2 linked regions of the Homo sapiens genome follow. The protein of the gene in region 1 purifies or fractionates together with the protein of each later gene. This does not show direct contact. Each region holds a gene or a part of one and is shown on either strand. Other genes may lie near its edges.

What was found. Proteins that work in one complex are often made in the same cells at the same time.
Region 2: the proteins of TAS2R7 (region 1) and MEAK7 purify together in Homo sapiens (affinity purification with mass spectrometry, with the first as the bait; one large-scale study listed by BioGRID). This does not show direct contact.

The regions. Positions count from the first base shown.
Region 1 is NC_000012.12:10,801,032-10,804,042, forward strand, and holds TAS2R7 (taste receptor type 2 member 7), read right to left. Parts: upstream 1,597-3,011; 5' UTR 1,540-1,596; coding exon 583-1,539; 3' UTR 501-582; downstream 1-500.
Region 2 is NC_000016.10:84,478,258-84,480,659, reverse strand, and holds part of MEAK7 (MTOR-associated protein MEAK7), read left to right. Parts: coding exon 1-131; intron 132-633; coding exon 634-747; 3' UTR 748-2,402. UniProt on the Homo sapiens protein: Activates an alternative mTOR signaling through RPS6KB2 activation and EIF4EBP1 repression to regulate cell proliferation and migration. Recruits MTOR at the lysosome, essential for MTOR signaling at the lysosome.

The sequences.
Region 1 (3,011 bases):
TGTGACAATATATTTAGCCATAATATATACCTTTTCTGTGATTATAAGATTATTCATAGAATTCCACAGCATTTATTAAGAACTGTCACTTTATTGAGTCTTTCCCAAAAGTAGAGCTTTGTTGGATGATCCAAGAGGAACCATCTAACGCGGACTATGAGAAGGAACTAGTTGCTTTTCATAAAGATGCAAATAACAGCAAGATGCTGTTACAGTTGTTTTGAATTAGTCACACAACTTTGCATCTGGAAACACGGTTTAGAACTATGAAAATGCCCTCTACTCTTGATAGTTGATATTAGGATATTAATTTCTATTTGCTCTGAAACATGTTTTAAAAAACAGCAACTCTAAAGAAAGGAAGAGTTACAGAAGAGAGAAACAGGGATACACAGACAGAGTCAGAAACAGAGACAGAGATAAAGAGATCCAGCCAGCTGTACATAAGATTCCCTACATTACAATTACAGATACACTAATTAAGTTTTAGGAGTAATTAATCACATAAAACATTAATGCAAGAACTGAAGTTAATTTAGAAACATCTTATCTTTGTTTGTCCTAGAAAAGCATAGTTTCTCTTCAGATTTGTTTATGTTGTTGGAATTTTCTTCCTTTTAGAATAGACATTACTTTCCAAATCACCTTTAGAGATGCATGTCTTAATTTATTGTTCCCCAGTATTAGGATAAATGAATGACTTGAGGGGTAGATTAGAGCTATGGACTCACCAAAAATCACAGCTAATTCCGTCTCTGGCATAAAGTAGCTGGAGGTGGCAATGAGAAAGGACAAATAGTAGGCAATAAAGAGGAGAAGGAAGGAAATGACAGCTTTCAGGGCTCTCACATGGGCTTCTGTGCTGGGGTCTCTGCACCCTGTGGCACTGAGCTGCATTCGCCTGATATGTCTCCGCAGGGAGAGGATCAAGAGGAAAAAGGACATTAGGCACACACAAAAGGGGAGCAGCGTTGCCAGGTTGAGAAATAACTTGGTAGAAGCATGTTGAGTTTTATTTACTCTGCAACTCCAAGTTAAGTTTGTTTTCCTCTTTGCCTTCACACAAAACCTGAAATCAGCGTTCAAATTCTCAGTGGCTGGAAGGCTAATAAACACAGAGAGAACCACGCACCCCAGTAGAATCCAGGAAATCACCCTGTCAATTCTCCACTTCATCCAGAGGAAAAGTGGGTGAAAGAAATTACCTATCTTGAAGAAATAGTAAATGCTGAGGCAGGTTGCAAACCAGATACTTAAATGATTGGTTAGTGTCCAGAAGAAGTCAATGATTCTCATTTCTTTACCAGTGGCATAGACATCTGGATATAGCACCAATATAAAACAATCTAATAGTATTACGCACAATAGACAAATTCTGGATATGGCCAGACTTGTGAGGATTAAATCAATGGAGGCAATTTTCCTCTTCTTGACCCAGTCCATGCAGTTTACCAATCCAATGAATGCATTCCCTAAGATCCCCACTGAAAACTCTCCAACTGCTAAGAACAATAAAGTAGTCTGCACTTTATCTGCCATGTTTAAATATGCAATTAGTTTCTAGTTGACCTGATGGAGTTTGACATCCACACCTGCTTCTTAGATTTTGATGTAGTTTTCTTTACCTCTTTGTTGTAGTCTGTTTTGTGATGGAGACTGGAATGATAAATGAAGACTGGAGCTATCTTCATTAAATCCTAATTAGTCTTGACAAACAATGTGTTTGGCGATCCTTGGCCTGGCCACTGTATGCCCATTTACCTACTCAGCAGGTTGTAATTTTCCACATACGGTTAATTTAGGCTGAGCTACTGTTTACTAAGATGCAAATTGGGCCAATTCCCTTTCATGGTCCTGCATTGTCTTTCTGAGGCTAAGGTGTACGCATTTTGGATTCATTAATTTGTGATGTATGCTAGTAACCTCAATAGGGTTGCTAGATTTAGCGACTAAAAATTCAGGACACTCAGTTAAACTTGAATTACAGGTAAAAAAATCAATAATTTTTTAGTGTATGTCCCTGATTACTTAAGATCAGTGCTTTCAGGAAGTACTGAAGTTCAAATTAGATTGAGTGTTCCATTCTGGCAACCTGAACATCAAGAATTTGGTAGCAAGTATAAAACTGGTAAAATTGGAAAGTTCTTGAAGAATTTTTATTTTGCTGAATGTTAATATTGATAATTAGTAAAGAATCCAAAGTTTGGTTCCATAGTGAGAGTTATATATTTTCAGGAACTTTAAAAAGTTAACACTAAATGTAGGTTATTTGATTCCAAAGAAACTTTAGGTCATTATTTTGGCTGTTCAGATGAACAATTACATGGCATAGTGTCTCTTAATACAACACATTGTCTTACTGACTAAATGACTTTTAATGGTTATTTAGCAATGTTATATATAATAAGGTAGAGGACCTGTAATAAAAAAAGACTATTGATTACCTTAAATTTTTCATTTTCACTTAAAATGTTCTCAAGGAAACTTTGAGAGGTATTAGATATGTCCATTACCTTGTTTGTGGTGAAGATATCATGGGTGTTTGAAATTTTATACATTAAATATATGCGGTTCTTTTTATACCAATTATACTTTCATAAAGATTTCAAAAATTTAAAAAATGTTCTCAAGGGTAGTTGTATGCATGAGAGAGGAGATAGTAAAATTCTGTATTTCATTCTCTCCACTGTCCTCCATACAAATTGCATGAGTATCTAGATCCTCAACCCTTCTAGCAGGAGACTGAAGATTAAACTTTCCACATCTCTAGAGATGAATTTTTAGTTTGAAATAGCTTCTCTAATTTAGAGTTACTGAGAAGCGCTTTACTACATGGGGTTCCATAGAATAGTTCTTGGGTATTCACACCTTCCTGGGAATGCATGTCTTCTCTTATCCTTCCTTAAAGGACAAACCATCATTCCGGAGATGTAGCCTTAACTTTTGGACAATCTGTATGATTATGTAGCCATGTTCACAGGCAACTGGAACATCACCTATGATAGGACGAT
Region 2 (2,402 bases), on another chromosome or scaffold:
TTGGGAAAGGACACAGCAGAGCCAAGCCCACGTGCACCACGTACAACAGCCCGCAGCTGTCGGCTCAGGAGAACTTCCAGTTTGATAAGATGGAGGTGTGGGCGGTTGGAGACCCCTCAGAGGAGCAGTTGGTGAGTGGAGCTGTCCTCTGCATCCCAGGATGGCCCCTTGAGCCTGGGGGCCTTTCTGCATTTTCTTACCATTACCCCTTTACTCTTCTGTCTGCAGATAGTTTATCCCAAATTTGATCCTGGTAGCTGATGCTGGCTTGGATGCCAGGAGATGCATGGCTGGAAGTCTTGTCTGGGATTTGTGGGTGGTTTAGTAGAGCAGCCCTGGGAAGGGGGGTTCCCCAAGTGCGAGCCCAGGTGGCCCTTCATTCTCTCTGCCCACCTGCAAGAGGAGGAATGTCTAGGGTTCCTTCCGCTTCCCTGGTTCTGCACCTGAGTTGCTGTTGGCCCCTGAACCTCCTGTAATACCTCCTACCCACCCAGCCACTGAATCCCAGAGTGGGAGGGGCCTTAGGGGGAACCGGAGCCTGATTCCACCCAAGAAGGCTGGAAAACTAGCAGGAAGCTGCTGCCTCTTGTTGGGCCATCATGGAACACACCCACCCTTTCTTCTCTTCTCAAGGCCAAGGGCAACAAGAGCATCCTGGATGCGGACCCTGAGGCCCAGGCCCTGCTGGAGATCAGTGGGCATTCGCGCCACAGCGAAGGGCTCCGGGAAGTCCCGGACGATGAATGAGGAGCCGCCTGAGCCTTCCTGGAGCCAGGACCTGGATTCCTCTGGGTAGAGGGCAACGCCTGCAGCCCCTCTTCCCTCCCACATGGTTTAACTGTAATAGCGTACCGCACGGGTCACAGCCTGGTAGTCCCACATGTGCCAAGAAGACGCCCTCTGAAGCCATGTCCTGACTCATGGGTGGATCTCCCAGAAATAGATGTTTTTTAAGTTTTCTTTTTTTCCCTACAGGGTCACCCTCAGGATCTCTCCAAGAAATCTTGTGTCAAATTAGTAACTCAGTCTTATACTTTGTTCTTTTTTACCAACGAAATCCTAAGCAGCTGAGACCTTTCAGACCCCCGCTGGCATTAGGGAATTCCGCTGGCATTAGGGAATTCCGCTGGCATTAGGGAATTCCGCTGGCATTAGGGAATTCCGCTGGCATTAGGGAATTCCGCTGGCATTAGGGAATTCCGCTGGCATTAGGGAATTCCGCTGGCATTAGGGAATTCCGCTGGCATTAGGGAATTCCGCTGGCATTAGCATTGCTGGGATCTCAACTTCTCTATTGAGGAGGGGGTTCCTCCCGCTGGGGTTCATATGGCCTCACTCAGGCCATCCCTGTTAGAAGGTGGTACCTGATGGTCTGTTCTGACGGGTGAGGGACAGAGGCATCTGGATGAAAATCTCGACGCTTTCTGGGAACAGCTTCCAATGGCATGGGAGTTCTGTATTTAAAAGCATGAACTGTGTATAAAATGGGGAAATGGAGGCAGGAGACTTTGAGGTAACATGGTCTGGTGGTGGCATGAGTCCTCAGAAGGTATTTGTAATAAGGTTCCACACCCAGCTCTCTCAGCTGTTTTTAAATGAATGTGTGTGAGGAACAGATGGGAAAGTTGGGAGATCTGTCTACAGAGAAGCAAAGTTGTGGTTCTCTTGCTAACTTCAAGGTGAGGGACATTGGGCACCCTAAGTTTGGGAACTTGGTTGATAAATACGTATATGGTCCATTCCATAAATCAGTGGTGAGTGACTGGCCTGGGTTCTAGACCTCTGGGAACCAGCACCTGAGTCACAGCTGTCTAGGCCTCGGTGCTGGCCTGGGTTCTAGATCTCTGGGAACCAGTGCCTGAGTCACAGCTGTCAGTGCAGCCATTTGCCCAGGGCTGCTCCCGAGGGGGATGATGGGAAATTCAGCAGTGTAGACTGACTTTAAACAAGCTCCGGTGATCCTGAAATGCTGAAGATCGTGTAGGTGGGTTGTGGGGTCAGCAGAGCTGCCATCTGCCCACGTCTGGAAAACAACACACGGTGAGTCACCGGTTGGCCATGAGATCTCCCCACTTAAAGGTGCTGTGAGCTTGTCTCTAAGATATATACCTCTTCCTTTTGTCTTTTGCTGTAAGCTTTGACCTTTTGCAGATCTGATGAAAATACAACCTCTTATTGTATAGTTTGCCTTGATTATAAGCCATAGTAAATCGAGCTGTTCGCATTTTTGCAGGCCTTGCATTTTCTACTGGGAGGTTCATCAAACCTTCCACTTAGCAATAGCCCTGACTCAGGCAGAATGCCTCATAAATTAGCCTTCGAAAGAAAAGTGCACGCTCAGACAGTGTGTGGAGGGGCAGGAGCGTGATGCAGACAAGGACTTAGTCATGACTGATTTTCCT